Homo sapiens: one gene and its partner. The protein of the gene in region 1 interacts with the protein of each later gene in a pairwise test. Each region holds a gene or a part of one and is shown in the gene's direction. Other genes may lie near its edges.

What was found.
Region 2: the proteins of ATP2A2 (region 1) and OPRD1 interact in binary tests that used the Homo sapiens proteins (3 or more experiments, as listed by UniProt).

What each region holds. Positions count from the first base shown.
Region 1 is NC_000012.12:110,339,530-110,347,538, forward strand, and holds part of ATP2A2 (sarcoplasmic/endoplasmic reticulum calcium ATPase 2), read left to right. Parts: coding exon 1-192; intron 193-1,129; coding exon 1,130-1,465; intron 1,466-2,698; coding exon 2,699-2,919; intron 2,920-3,702; coding exon 3,703-3,905; intron 3,906-5,356; coding exon 5,357-5,442; intron 5,443-5,719; coding exon 5,720-5,853; intron 5,854-6,471; coding exon 6,472-6,589; intron 6,590-6,671; coding exon 6,672-6,941; 3' UTR 6,942-7,863; coding exon of another isoform or gene 7,864-7,883; 3' UTR 7,884-8,009.
Region 2 is NC_000001.11:28,863,602-28,871,610, forward strand, and holds the end of OPRD1 (delta-type opioid receptor), read left to right. Parts: 3' UTR 1-7,666; downstream 7,667-8,009. UniProt on the Homo sapiens protein: G-protein coupled receptor that functions as a receptor for endogenous enkephalins and for a subset of other opioids.

The sequences.
Region 1 (8,009 bases):
TGCACCCACATTCGAGTTGGAAGTACTAAGGTTCCTATGACCTCTGGAGTCAAACAGAAGATCATGTCTGTCATTCGAGAGTGGGGTAGTGGCAGCGACACACTGCGATGCCTGGCCCTGGCCACTCATGACAACCCACTGAGAAGAGAAGAAATGCACCTTGAGGACTCTGCCAACTTTATTAAATATGAGGTTAGCTAATGAAAAGTTTCTTTGTCCACACCCTGCACGATTCATTGTGTTTAAACAGTACTCCTTCAAGCAAAAGGTCAAACAGTTCTCACTTTTGCCAAGAAAGAGGTGTGGTTATTTGTTTTTCTGCCTGCCAGCTGTGTCACCCTTAAAATTTGCTGCTTCAAACATACATAGTTAATAATTTCATAAAAGTGTTATTTTCAAAGTAGAATATTTTCAAAGTAGAATAATCAAGATGAGCTTAAGCTTGTAAACCCCATTTTGCCTCTCATCTAAATCATGATTTTTTTTAAATTGGTGACATTTCTAGAATATTCATTAGTTACTGAAGGTCAAAAGATCCAAGTTGGAGATTACTTCCACTTTTCTACTCAGAGTAGAATTCTTTTATATCAAGGATGTGACATCCTAAAGCTATGAACAAAATGAAGAAGCTTTGGTACTGTGGGCTCAGAATAGCACAAGAGTTAAAGAATGGTTTGATAACGGGTGTAGTGGTATTTTTTTTTCTCATAAGAAAATGCAAAAACCGCCAGGCACGGTGGCTCAAATGCCTGTAATCTCAGCACTTTGGGAGGCCGAGGCTGGCAGATCACCTGGGGTTGGGGGTTTGAGACCAGCCTGACCAACATGGAGAAACCACATCTCTACTAAAAATACAAAATTAGCCAGGTGTGGTGGCGCATACCTGTAGTCCCAGCTACCCTGGAGGCTGAGGCAGAAGAGTCTCTTGAACCTGGGAGGCGGAGGTCGCAGTGAGCTGAGATTGCGCCATGGCACTCCAGCCTGGGCAACAAGAGCGAAACTCCGCCTCAAAAAAAAAAAAAGAAAAAAAATGCAGAAACCTGTCTCAATGTTTAACTGGGCATTTTTCAAACTAGGGGACAAAAACTAGAACTTGCCACTTTTATTTAAAGTGATGCTCTTATTTTAGACCAATCTGACCTTCGTTGGCTGCGTGGGCATGCTGGATCCTCCGAGAATCGAGGTGGCCTCCTCCGTGAAGCTGTGCCGGCAAGCAGGCATCCGGGTCATCATGATCACTGGGGACAACAAGGGCACTGCTGTGGCCATCTGTCGCCGCATCGGCATCTTCGGGCAGGATGAGGACGTGACGTCAAAAGCTTTCACAGGCCGGGAGTTTGATGAACTCAACCCCTCCGCCCAGCGAGACGCCTGCCTGAACGCCCGCTGTTTTGCTCGAGTTGAACCCTCCCACAAGTCTAAAATCGTAGAATTTCTTCAGTCTTTTGATGAGATTACAGCTATGGTGAGCATGTTTGAACATGTACAGGTGACTCAGGCTACACAAGCACATAGTAGCCTCTAATTTTGACCACTGAATTTTTTTGTCATAGCTCCCTAATTTGGAATTTGTCATGATTTGGGTCTTTTCTCTAGAATTCGGTGAATCAGTGGTTAGCATGTTGTGTGCTACTTGCAGGGAAGATCCTAGAGTCGTTTAAAACCCAGAAGGGCCTTCCAGATCAGTCCCAGAGGAACAATCTGGTGATCTAGTCTCTTTTTTAAATGAGACGTGTTTTTATTGTAAGTTTTCTGAAAATTGAGGATGTAATCAGTCAGTTGTTTGGATCACCCTGCTTTTAAGTTCTTTAAGAGCTGGCTATTGATGAAGCATTTCCAGTATTCTTCCCCTCACCTGATTTTCACCCAGATACATTATGTTAAATTTACTTTCTTCTCTTTTAAAAAAAAATCTTAGTTTTGAAACATACTATAAGTGTACTCTCCTCTCCCCCAGAGGTAACTGAAGTTGGAATTTAGCAAAAATATTAAAAACATGGGAGTGCTGTTTTTGTGTCTGTAGACAGTATTATTTTTGCATGCTTTTGAAGGCATATTTTTTGGCCGAGTGCAGTGGCTCATGCCTGTAACCCCAACACTTGGGAGGCCGAGGCAGGTGAATCACTTGGGGTCAGGAGTTCAAGACCAGCCTGGCCAACATGGTGAAACCCCGTCTGTACTAAAAATACAAAAAATTGCTGGGTGTGGTGGTGGGCGCCTGTAATCCCAGCTACTCGGGAGATTGAGGCAGGAGAATCGCTTGAACCCAGGAGGCGTGCAGTGAGCCGAGACTGCGCCACTGCACTACAGCCTGGGCGACAGAGCGGGACTCCATCTCAGAAAAATAAAAATTTGCATATTTTTGCAATCTGCATCTTTCTACTTGAAATTTATCCATGTGGATACAAGTGCTTCCTCTTGACTGCCACATAGGTTGTGTTTTTGTTTTTAGTAAGATAATACAGATAAATTTGAAGTCCCCTTTGTCCCACTTCGGTAAACTTATTTGGTAATTTTACATTTCCTAGGTAAAATGTGTTTTGTGACACCAACTTATGAAACAAAAATTCTAAAACTCTTTGCCAAGAGACCTACGGCTCTATTCATTTTCCTCCTGCTTCCCATTCAGTGGGCTTTTGCCTAGGGGTATGAATGTGGCATGCCAGTTGGCTGACCCAACCATTGCTTTCCCTTTCAGACTGGCGATGGCGTGAACGATGCTCCTGCTCTGAAGAAAGCCGAGATTGGCATTGCTATGGGCTCTGGCACTGCGGTGGCTAAAACCGCCTCTGAGATGGTCCTGGCGGATGACAACTTCTCCACCATTGTGGCTGCCGTTGAGGAGGGGCGGGCAATCTACAACAACATGAAACAGTTCATCCGCTACCTCATCTCGTCCAACGTCGGGGAAGTTGTCTGGTAGGTCTCTGTGACAGCATCACTTACTGTACGCCTTTATCTAAATGGGTCATGGAGCCCAGTTCTCGCAGTTTGCTCTCCAGATTGCAGCAGCTTTGGTCTTTGTGCCTGAGTTGGAAGAGGGGAGTGGGCAAGACAGAAATGCCTTATGGAAGCAGTGGTGCTTTGGCCCTCGGGAGGGTTGTCTGCAGCTGCCCCAATGTGCAAAGAATCCTCTTTAACGTGAGACTGAGCTAACATTAACCAGGTAGTCACATGAAATTCTTGCCCTCCAAAAGTTGGCTTTATCTCAGTCAGCTTAATAATTTTTTTATTTTTATTTATTTTTTTGAGACAGTCTCGCTGTCGCCCAGGCTTCGGGCAGTGGCACGATCTCAGCTCACTGTCCCCTCCACCTCCTGGGTTCAAGCCTCCCGAACAGCTGGGATTACAGGCATGCGCCACCACTCCCTGCCATTTTTTTGTGTTTTAGTAGAAATGAGGTTTCACCATGTTGCCCAGGCTGGTCTCTTAACTGCTGAGCTCAGCCAGTCTGCCCACCTTGGCTTCCCAAAGTGCTGGGATTACAGGCATAAGCCACCGCACCTGGCCTCAGTCATCTGAATTTAAGTAATAAACTAAGTAAAATTGAGCTTTAATTCAAAATTGGGTATAAGTATTTTACAGATTACCTGAAGTTGTTGTCATTTATTTTTCTGGAGGAGGGCGGGTTGATGATGCTCTTTAAATAGTGGCCAGAAGTCATTTGGGCTCTCTTTGTCTTCTTTTCTTGATTGGAAACAGTATTTTCCTGACAGCAGCCCTTGGATTTCCCGAGGCTTTGATTCCTGTTCAGCTGCTCTGGGTCAATCTGGTGACAGATGGCCTGCCTGCCACTGCACTGGGGTTCAACCCTCCTGATCTGGACATCATGAATAAACCTCCCCGGAACCCAAAGGAACCATTGATCAGCGGGTGGCTCTTTTTCCGTTACTTGGCTATTGGCTGTGAGTACAATTTTTTTATATTACTGATTTTTAAACAAAATGTTTGTGAGCTGAAATTTTGTAAATTCATCCCTTAAAAGCGTGTTTTTTCTTCTATCCCCGTATAGGGTAGCAAAAGACAGAGATGCCCTCTTACAGTTCGATGAACTATACATCCAATTTACCAGAGTCCTTTCACAGTTAGTTCCAGTTTTAGCATCCTGCCCTTACTTGGGCTTTTCTGAATGAGCAATTAAACATCAGGGTTTTCAGATTGAGCCCTCTGTGCAAAGGGATAAGAATGATTCACGCTAGGTTCTGCCTTCCAAGAGTTCATAGGTGGGATTTAAATAGATAATTGTCACCAAGTTATAAAATTTAGTCCCTGTTTCCATAAGAGAAGGGTTGCGCAGTGGCTGGTCCCTTTTATATATAAATCATCTCTTTAGCCCTCATCTTCCTCACCCCGGGTTCTTCCCCATTTCATAGATTGGGAAAGTGAGGTGAAATCACTTCCCTGGGATCCCATAGGAAGGCATTGTGTTTTCATAATATATTCACATGACTTCAAATTCAAAAAGCACACAATGGCATAGAATGGAAAGGGTTTGGGCCAGTCACTTCCCTCTGGCGTTGAGGTGCTCATGTACCCTGTGCCCTTCCGGAGAGATTCCAGCATGCTGTGCACACCTGCATGTTGACCCTTGTCTTGCCTTCTTCCTGCTTGTCAGATCCTTCCATATCCGGACATGCGTAGTGCCTCATCCTTGCAGCCAGCGGCCTTCATGCTCCACTGTAATTCGTGGGTTAGTGGGTATATGCACTTGTTGTTTTTGATGCTACCACATGGGGATATTTGCCTCGTCTGAACTCTGTGTATTCTCTGCTGCACCTTGTTGCTTCTTTGCAATAAACTTCCTGAACTCAAAGCTAATACTGGGGGGAATCCCAGAAGCTGCTGAGGGCAGGGCCATGCTGCTCAGTGTTCCACCCTAGCTCCTGACAGCATTTCCCTAGAAAACTGCTGCTGGGCCTCTAATGGAGCAAATAAATCTGTGTACAACTAGGCAGCAATAGTTTGTCCAAAAGTCCTGGTGTAATCTAGTCCCTCAAACTGTGCAGCCTTACATGGAGTACACACACACTTGCAGCCTTGAAGTACTACCCACTGAGGGGAGAAGGCACGGCAAGGGGAAAGGTTGGCACAGGATGGAGCAAGTGCTTTTTCTCACACATTCTGGAGGAAAAGTTATCCAGTTCTTCTGTTCTAGAAACACCCCTGTCCTTCAGAAACCAGGGTCTAGTTGCTCTGGCTACCAGGCGTGAGCAGGTGGTGGTAGCACCACAGGCCCCGGTTACCATCACTGTCCCATGTCTTTGATCTTCGTCCTTGTGGGGACTGGCCTGCATGGCCTCGGTGGCAGCGAGCCCTGCAGAGGCAAGTGCATCAGCATCACTGTGTTTGTTCCCAGGTTACGTCGGCGCTGCTACCGTGGGTGCTGCTGCATGGTGGTTCATTGCTGCTGACGGTGGTCCAAGAGTGTCCTTCTACCAGCTGGTACTCAGTCACCTTTCTTTCTGTACCTTACATGAGAAGTGTTGTGAGGCCTTGACCTTTCTGTGGTTTCGGTATCTATCAAATCATCTTAAGACTCAGACAATAAACAGTTACATCTAAGATGATTCTGAAGGACCAGGGCTTCTCCGAGAAATTGGGGTAAACCTCTTGGCTGGCTCTGCATTCAGGCTGGTCTGTGCTAGGCTTGGTATGGGGTTGGAGCCTGGACTTGGGAAATATACTGGGCTGATAGGAATTTGATTGGATTTTCTTGCAGAGTCATTTCCTACAGTGTAAAGAGGACAACCCGGACTTTGAAGGCGTGGATTGTGCAATCTTTGAATCCCCATACCCGATGACAATGGCGCTCTCTGTTCTAGTAACTATAGAAATGTGTAACGCCCTCAACAGGTTAGTGCACCTTCACGGCAGGCTGAGGCGAGCATGGTGACTGCCAGGGCACCGGGGAATTGTGTGTAGTCACGGTTGATTGAGGATCACAGGACAGTTCTTCCCTTCCCAAAAGAAAGGAGAACAGGCAATACCAGTTTTAAAAGCATGAGCTGTCGTCACCTCCAGGAAGTAGTGGGAGTGCTTAGCCCTGTGTTTCTTAGGAGCTCTTCCTTAAAAGAAACCGTGGGGGCCAAAAATAGGAACTTTGGTACCCCTGTATGCCAGCACCCACAGGGAAGGAACCTCACCCTTTCACACAGACAAATGGTACCATCCAGTTAAGCCCGTGACAAAAATGGAAATTTCTAAATAGCCCAAGTCTCCAGGGCAATTGGGAACAGCTTTGAACCCACTAAGATGGGGTCTGCTATGCCAAAACATAGATACAGAATTCACAGTTTGTCCTGCATTAGGACATTCTCTTCAACTTTGCCACTGTAGAAAGTGGAGGTAGGTCAGCGGATGGTGCCACATTAACAGCCGCCTTACTGAAGTGTAGTCCAACAGGGTCTTACTGCCACTGTGACACGTGCCTTGCCTTGGGGGTGCGTTTCCCCACCTCTCCTTGCTCTGCAGCTTGTCCGAAAACCAGTCCTTGCTGAGGATGCCCCCCTGGGAGAACATCTGGCTCGTGGGCTCCATCTGCCTGTCCATGTCACTCCACTTCCTGATCCTCTATGTCGAACCCTTGCCAGTAAGTGGTTGGGTGGGGCTTGGGACCAGCCACCTCCTTCCAGGGGAGGCTGGAGGCGTGACACGTCTTCCCTGTGTGTCAGCTCATCTTCCAGATCACACCGCTGAACGTGACCCAGTGGCTGATGGTGCTGAAAATCTCCTTGCCCGTGATTCTCATGGATGAGACGCTCAAGTTTGTGGCCCGCAACTACCTGGAACCTGGTAAAGAGTGTGTGCAGCCTGCCACCAAATCCTGCTCGTTCTCGGCATGCACCGATGGGATTTCCTGGCCGTTTGTGCTGCTCATAATGCCCCTGGTGATCTGGGTCTATAGCACAGACACTAACTTTAGCGATATGTTCTGGTCTTGACTGACAGTTTTCCATAAAGAAGATGTTTAACTTAATCAATTAATTTTTTTATTGTTTAAAGCAACTGTCTATTTCTGCTGAATTTTCACATGAACATACTGGCTGGTGATGGAGGTTTCATACTCTAGATTTTGTTTTGCTTTTTCTGACTCCAGTGGGGCAAGATTTTCCTTTTTTATACACATAATTAAAGTGTCCATTGACATGTACAGAGAACTAACACTATTTTATGCAAATATTTTTTTGTAGATGAAAAAGCATGTACAGTGTTCTGTTTAATACTCATCCTTGTATAAAAAAAATAGTTGAGCCAGCAGACATTGTCAGCAAATTAATTGGCAGCAGATTTTAGGAAATGAATGTGTGTGGTTTTTTTTCTAAAACTAAATAGCATGTATTGTGTCTTTTGCATGATGATCCGGATTTAATTTGATATCACAGTCTAATTTTTATTCATAAGCCAATTTTTCTGCACTGAGCAGAGTCTTGCTACCTCAGTCAGTATTGTTTTGGTTTGCTACTTCCCTCACCCACTTTGGCCTCCGTTCACCCCACCCCACCCCACCTCTCCCCACCTTACCCCCGCCCCGCTTGGCTTCTTCTTTAGGATTGTGATGGTTCGTTCTGTTTACATCAGTTTTAACGAGAGGTATGCCTGTACTCGCTTGTGCAGAAAACATTGTTCCAGATTCAATCGACTGGGTTTATGTCCCTTCACATAGTTTTTAAGGTTATTTATTTAAATGTCTAATGTATTTTATTGTAACAGACATTGTTTTGCCAACATTGCCTATTTCAGTGGCACGTCATCTAGTTTTAAAAAAATAAAACATTTTAAATGGACAGAGAAAAATAACTGTCTTGTCTTTAACTCGTAAGTGGCTTACCTGGGACTAACAGACATGTCCAACTTTCTCTCCAGTTCTTAGCTCAGAACTTTAGTTGTACTCTGCTTGAGGGGAAGAAGGCTCCTGCTCTGCTGTGTAGGTAGTCATAGGAATTGTATTCTTAATGTACAGGCACTAATTGTCATCTGTGATGTACATTTTATGCAAGTTTCTGCTGGCC
Region 2 (8,009 bases), on another chromosome or scaffold:
TAAACAGGGCATCTCCAGGAAGGCGGGGCTTCAACCTTGAGACAGCTTCGGTTTCTAACTTGGAGCCGGACTTTCGGAGTTGGGGGTCCGGGCCCAGGACCCAGAAAGGGCAGTGGTGGGGACAGTTGCTTGAAAACTGAGCTGCAAGACTGGGCCTCTGTGTAGTAGGGAGGAGCCTCCTGTGAGGGGAGACCCAGAGACAGGACAGCTGGGTGTGGCTACAGCTGAAGATTTGGTCACCAGATAGGGCGCCTGTGCAAAGGGCCTGTGGCCTCATCTTTGGATACGGGATACAGTCCCAGCCCTGAGTTCTAGCAAGGGGCAAGGCTCGCTGAGGTCCAGGTCCGACTTGACACCTTTATAAATAGAATATAAAAGACTGAGGGGCCAGGCGTGGTGGCTCAAGCCTGTAATCCCAGCACTTTGGGAGGCCGAGGCAGGTGGATGGACATGAGCCCAGGAGTTCGAGACTAGTCTGGGCAACATGGGAGACCCTGTCGCTACAAAAAATACAAAATTAGCCAGGCATGGTGGTGTGTACCTGCAGGCCTAGCTCCTTGGAAGGTGAGAGGATCACTTGATCCCAGGAGTTTGAAGCTGCAGTGAGCTATGGTGGTGCCACTGCACTCCAGCCTGGGGGACAGAGTAAGACTCTGTCTCTCAAAAAGGAGAGAGAGGGAGAATGAGGGAAGAAGAGATAGGAAGAGAGAGAAACAGTATACCTTTTATCTCTTTGACAGGCATGTATTTCCTTGGAATGGGCAGGAATCCCTCAGAATCGGTGGCCACAGTGGGGCTTGGGACAGGACAGCAGAGCGGGGGGCAGCCACTCCAGGATAGGGTAATAAGACAGGACCTTGGTTGGAGTAGGGTCCCCAGAACTGAGTACTAATGGGGGCCCAGAGGCTTGGGAAGGAGAAGGCTTCCAAAACCAGTTCGAAAACCCAGACCCGGAGTGGACCTCCGTGCCAAGGGGTGGTGGTGGGTGGGTGGAGGAAGAGGTGGGCTCCTGCTTCAAGGTTAGGTCTTCCAGTGGAAGGTGGATGCTTTCTGTGAGTCCCCAGGGCCCTAGTTTCTCTGGCCCAGATACTGGAGGACAGAGGACCACCTACTTAGATCCCGTAGATGGTAAGTGGTGCCTGGGACTCTTGAGGGCGGGGGGCGGGGTATGAGAAGCATCAGTTCGCACTTGGTGCTGGGTCCTGGGCCCTGATAAGAACCTGGATGAAATCCTCTTCCATTCTCCCAACATCTGGCTGCATCCATGTGTCTGGTGTCAATGACTCCAGTGAACTGGAACTGCCCATATGGGGACCTGACCTTGAAGGAACTGGGGGGAGAAGCTTTTGTAACTGCAATGCCGGCATCAGTGTGTGTCCCCCTCTGCCTTTCCCCCCAGGCTCCCCAGGTCCCCCACCTGCTCCAGCCCAGCTGTCCCCTTCACGCTGCTGAGAGTGATATCCACCTGGAGTTGGGTGTAGAAGTTTTTCTTTTCATTGGTTCGGCATTTTATTCAGGCACTCCTGGATCTTTGCTTCCCAGAATATCAGTGTCTGTCCTTGTTCTCTGTACCTCCCCCGTGCCTCATCTCCTCTCCCTCCGCTGCTGTCCCCTCCCTCACCAACACTGCCTCAGTAATGCACCCCTGACTCCCTATTGAAGCAGTGTGCTGACATCCTTGTAAAAACAAATTTAATTTTCTTCCTTTTTTGGGACAGATGGAAAGAAATTGACGTCTTTGTCTCAAACAAAAGAAAAAAGAAAAAGAAACAATATACTTCTTTTCCCTTTGACAGCCATGTCTTTGGAACAAAAGCTGGGAGGCTGTCACTCCAGCAGGGACTGAATAGCATGCAGGGGGCTGGGGACTTAGGCACCAAGAGGGGCTTTGGGCACATTAGGGGGAAGGGATGCTCTCAGAGGGCAAAGCACAGCCCCCTTCTCAGGGTGAGGCTCCCAGCAGCCCCAGACCCGGGGATGTGCCTCCTTTGGGAAATGGCTACCCCGGGTCCTGGAAAGATGTGGGGCCATGCCCAGCACTCACATCCAGCCTGCCAAGCCATTGTGACCTGGGGTCCCAAGCCACCTAGATCACTCTCACTACCTTGTGACCACAGAGACCCCTGTGTCTGAGGGTGGGAGGTCGTCAGCATGGCAGGAGACACTTCTCCTCATCAGGGGTCCTCCTGTGAATGCTTTGGGGGTATGGCAGAAAAAGGGACAATCTAGGAACTGGGGAAGACTCCTGAAGGAGGTGACATTGGAGCCAGGCTGTTTACTCTCCCTGCAGGACCTGTGTCCCCTCCCAGGATAGGCCTGTTTCAAGGCTGCTTGAAGCCCACTCACTGCCATCTCCTGTGTCTGTAACAGATCTGGCTGTTTTTTGCCCCTTCTGATATGTAAATCTGTCCTGAGGTCAGCAGGGCCCGGGTCCGGACCACGTGTGTTTAAGGTAGTGCAAACTTGTATTGAAATCTACTTCATGCCAAGCATGCACTCTGGGCATCAGGACTCGGAATGAGTCAGCCTTGGCCCTGCCCTCAGAAAGCCTGAGCCAGTGTTGGGAGATAAAGCATCAACAGATGATTGCACCTCAGTGTGATGAGTGCGGTGACAGGGAGCCCCAGGGAGGGTGTCACAGGGAAGTGCCTTTTCTAGCTTTTCACTAAAACACATGTTTGTCGCAGTTCTGTAAGAGGTGGAAAAGGGTCGGGGACCCTGAAGGATGAATAGGAGTTGGCCACCAAAAAGAGGAAATAGCGTGTGCGGAGGCATGGGGATGTTTAAATGCTTGGCAAACCCAACAAGTTGGGTGCAGCTGGAGCATGGGGCTTAACTAAGCTCTTCTGTGTGCCAGGCTCTCTGCCAGGTGTCTTGTGTGCATCAGCCCACCTGATCCTCAGGACAGCCTGGTGAGGAAGTAGTGTTATCCCCATTGAGGACAAAGAGAGCTGAGGCTGAGAGAGGTCAGGCTACTTGCTCCTAAGTCACAGGGCCTGTTCGTAGTGGCAGAACTTGGGTCCCTGGAATTCCAGGGTCCATGTTTCCAGTTAATTCCAGGCATCAGTGAAGTAGAAAGGCCTTAGAAGCTGGAACCCCAGAATGAGGTTTTGAAGACCTAAAACCAAATGGAAAAATCTAAAGGAAACGAGCAATTTTCCATGAACTTTTGTTCCTCCTGAAGCTCTCCAAATCTTCACGTTTCAGAATGTACTGTGCATGGTGCATTTTAAAGCTCTAAATTGACAGTGTAATTCTAGATCGTCACAGGGTTCTCAAAACTGCAGAGTAGGTCTGTTTCCCCCAAAATTTCCATTTATCTCCCTCCAGGAGGAGGGAGGGAAGTTTTTGCCCCTGATTTCAAAATGTCCTACTGTTTCAGATCTCTTCTTCTTCATCATCTTTTTTTTTTTTTTTTCAGCCAGTGTCTTGCTCTGTTGCCCAGTCTGGAGTGCAAGTGCAGTGGTGCAGTCATAGCTCACTGCAGTCTCAAACTCCTGGGCTCAAGTGATCTTCCCACCTCAGCCTCCTGAGAATCTGGGACGACGGGTGTGTGACACCATGCCCAGCAATTTTATTTTTATTTTTATTCATTTATTTTGTTTGGGTTTTTTTTTTTCTGAGACAGGGTCTCCCTCTGTCGCATAGGCTGGAGTGCAGTGGCACCATCTCGGCTCATTGCAACCTCCGCCTCCTGGGTTCAAGTCATCCTCCCGCCTCAGCCTCCTGAGTAGCTGGGATTACAGGTGTGCACCACCATAACCCAGCTAATATTTTTATTTTTAGTAGAGACGGGGTTTCACCATTTGGCCAAACTGGTCTCGAACTCCTGACCTCAGGGGATCTGCCCGCCTCAGCTTCCCAAAGTGCTGGGATTACAGGCGTGAGCCACCAAGCCCGGCCAATTTTTTTTTTTTTCAATAGAGACCAGAGTGTCTCTGTGTTGCCCAGACTGGTCTTGAACTTCTGTCCTCAAGCAATTCTCCTGCCTTGGCCTCCCAAAGTACTGGGTTTACAGGTGTGAGCCACTGTGCCCAGCTCTCATACCTCGTCTTGATGCAGTAGAAGTAGTGGTTAAGCCTGGAATCAGATCTTGGTTTTCCCTCTCTGAGCCTCAGTTTCCTCATCTGTAGAGTAGACTTCCTTCACGGGTGGTTGTGAGGATTTAATGTATGTATAGGGATAAGGCCCAGAACGTAAGTAAACTCTAAGTACATGGTAAGTGGCAGTCACTGCTTACAAGTGGAGCCAGGGTTCAGGGTCAGAGCTAGAGACCTACAGGGAAGAGTAGGTGAGCTGTCGGGGCTAGTGATGGAGAGAGAGAAGAGACTGGAGATCCAGCTTGGGGATCCCCTTGCTTCCTGGCCCAGGAGCCACCATGGAGAGTGAGAAGCTGCCAGAGAAGCAGGAGGAGGATGGAGAGAATGTGCTACCATGGAAACTGGAGGAGGAGGGCGTTCCCAGGAGGAGGGAGTGATGGATAATGTCAAGTGTCATAAGAGAGGATGCGAGTAGGGAGGGCAGGAGGGTGATGGGAGCTCTCCAATTTAGTTTTTTACATGGCCCAGGCAGCCCCCAAGCCTGGATCAAATCCCAGCTCTCAAGCTAACTGGCTGTGTGACCTAGACAAGGGATTTGCCTTCTCTGAGCTTCAGTTTCCTTCTAGAGTTGAGATGTGGGAATTGGTCCATCTCTAATACGATCATCAGCCTCACTTAATAAGAGTCCTAGCTTTGCCGAATTCTTGGCCACGTGCTAGCAGTGTGATCTTAGGCAAGTCACTTCACCTCCACGAGAGCACTCTCTGAAAGCTAGAGATATGGTAAGCAAAGTGCCACCAAAGTGCCTGGCACATAGTGGGGCCTCGATACAGGCTTATTCTCTGATAATTACACGTGTGCCAGAGGCAGCTGCTCTAAGGAGGCTTGCTGGGCTTGGAATTAGAAATGCTCCTCAAGGGCTGGGTGCAGTGGCTCACGCCTGTAATCCTAGCACTTTGGGAGGCCAAGGCGGGTGGATCATGAGGTCAGGAGTTCAACACCAGCCTGACCAACATGGTGAAACCCTGTCTGTACTAAAAACACAAAAATTAGCCAGGCGTGGTGGCGTGCACCTGTAATCCCAGCTACTCAGGAGGCTGAGGCGGGAGAATCGCCTGAACCCAGGAAGCAGAGGTTACAGTGAGCCAAGATCTTGCCACTGTACTCCAGCCTGGGCGACAGAGCGAGACTCTGTCTGAAAAAAAAAAAAAATTAAAAAGAAATGCTCCTCAAGTTGGAGAGGGCCCACTAGCATCCTGAGAGGACTTGGAAGAACAACAGTCCAGGCTGGGCACCTGCTGGGTCTCTGTCCAAAGGCCAGCCCTCTCTTTGTGTCAGCCGCAGATCCCTCACCTAGGGCATGACTACTGGCTGCCAGCTCCCACTAACACCTGCTGCAGATCCAGACTGAAGCCGGCCCCAGCGGCCCCAAAGCCCCTAGGAAGTGACCACCCCCCATCCCTGGCACCCAGATCCTGGCCCCTGCACTCACACACAAAACACATACAGATGCCTCTCTTTCATCATGTATTTATTCCTTTATTTCTGGGAGCCGGGAGGAGTGACGGGAGCAAATCAGGACCTGGCCGCCCCACGCTGAGCTTGCAGATATTGAGAGTTGGGTGACAGATGGCTGTGTGGTTCAGGCTGCAGGCAGCTTGGGAATTCAAAATGGGGCTTAGAGAGGAGCTGGAGGGGGCCCTCGAGGTGGACGTAGTGATGCAGTAGGGCATGGCACTGCGAGGTTGCCCGGGTTCTAGTCCCAGCACCATCACCGGGGATGAGCCGTTTCAGAGTGTGGCACTCTGTCACACTCCATTTCATTGAGAGGCCACTGAGACATTATCAATGGGTAATGTACAGCACTTCCATGGCATAACTCATTTAATCTTCACAGCATGATGATGAGGTAGGCATAGTATCATTACCTCCATTTTACAGATGGGGAAACTGAGGCTCAGAGAAGGGAATGACTTGCCCAAGACCACATGGCTTCTCAGTGATTGGCTCAGCTAGGATCCCACCTTTGGTCCTTCAAGTCCACTTCCTCTGCTTTCCTCTTCCTGCACCCTGAGAGGAAATGCTCTGAGTATACCGAGGGTCCTCAGGAGACTCTCACATCCAGCTCACAGTCACAGGCTGAGCATTCCCTGTGCTGGGTTCTGTACCTCATCATGTTGGCAGCAGAGGCACGTGCCAGCTGCTCAAAAAACTGCTGTAACCTTGGTAGATCCCTCTCCCCATCCATTTCTTCCTTGCCTTGGAAGTCCTGCTTGTTTGATAATTTTCTGACTGACTGCCATGTTGTTGCCTTGTGACCTTGGGCATGTCATTTCACTCTGAGCCATTTCTCAGTCATGGATGACAGCACTTAGCTGATGAGAAGTTGAGAAGATTCAGAAAGAGGCTATGAGTGAAGGACCTTGTCTGTTTTGGTCATGAAAGTGTTCCCAGGAAATGCAAATGGACACACAGTAGTTATCTACTGAGCTAATGAACAATGTCCCTGGTGCATAGTAAGTGCCCAATAAAATGCAGCTTTTTTCATATTATCTAATGTTTTAGGCCATGCCTGCACCAACCCATGCTTCTTTTTTTTTTTCTTTCTTTCTTTCTTTTTTTTTTTTTAAGACAGAGTCTCACTCTGTCACCCAGGCTGAAGTGCAATGGCGAGATCTCGGCTCACTGCAACCTCCGCCGCCCGGGTTCAAGCAATTCTCCTGCCTCAGCCTGCTGAGTAGCTGGGATTACAGGCACGTGCCCGGCTAATTTTGTATTTTTAGTAGAGACGGGGTTTCGCCGTGTTGGCCAGGCTGGTCTCGAACTCCTGACCTCAACTGATCCACCCACCTCGGCCTCCCAAAGTGCTAGGATTACAGGCATGAGCCACCGTGCCCAGCCCAACCCATGGTTCTTAATGCTGCAGGTGGGTCCGGAGAAAGGCTTTTCTCTTTTAACCATCTCCTTGAATTTCAGAAGGTGGGACAACATGTGCTGGAAAGCAGTTCTTAAGAGGACATCTTTTCCCAAGCTCCTTAGCCTTAGCTGTCCTCTCCTGCCCTCACCAGGACTGCCCTCTCAGGGACCCAAGAGGAAGGGACAGCCTGGAAAGGAAGAAGGTCCCGGGCCATCTGCGTCATGGGGATGGAGTCCCTTGGCGTGTGCCGGTGCAAATACACTCCTGTAACGGGGCTCATCTAGAATCTCCTCTCGGAATGAGGAGACCGCAAATGTGGTTTTGAATCTTCATTGTCCACTTCATTGCTGTGGTGTTGGGCAGGTCTCTGTCCCTCTCTGGGCCTCTGCACGATGGAGGGGTAGGAGTTGATGGTTCTGAAGGCTCTGCCATCCTGGAAAAGAACTGAGACACTTCCCTCATGTTCCTGGGTCCCAGAAACAGACATCTGTTGGTAAAATCTACTGGGCATTTGCCCAGAGACAGGGAAAAGAATGCCTGGGGGTCTGTAATAGGAGCTGCCCCAATTAGGGGCAGGGAGGCGGGCATGTAAAAAAGGAAGCTTAAAGCTTTGTTTTCAGGCTTTTTGCCTACCCCAGGCTCCATCTTGGTACCAAGTACTCAACCTTCTGTTTTCTCAATAAAGTGAGCCCTCTTCTCGGTGTCTGCATCTCTGGCTGTTTTGTTTGCTTACCTCTGCCAGGTTCCCTTGTAAGGGGCCCCCAGTCTGGGGGATCACATAAGCCTATGGGGAAGTCTGGCTCTGCCCTGAGGATGTGTCTCAGAGGGAGAGGCAATGTTGTCCTTAAGAACCCTAGTTTGGACCAGGTGTGGTGGCTCACGCCTGTAATCCCAGCACTTTGGGAGGCTGAGGCGGGTGGATCACGAGGTCAGGAGTTCAAGACCAGCCTGGCCAAGATGGTGAAACCCCGTCTCTACTAAAAATACAAAAATTAGCCGGGCATGGTGGTGGGTGCTTGTAATCCCGCCTACTCAGGAGGCTAAGGCAGAGA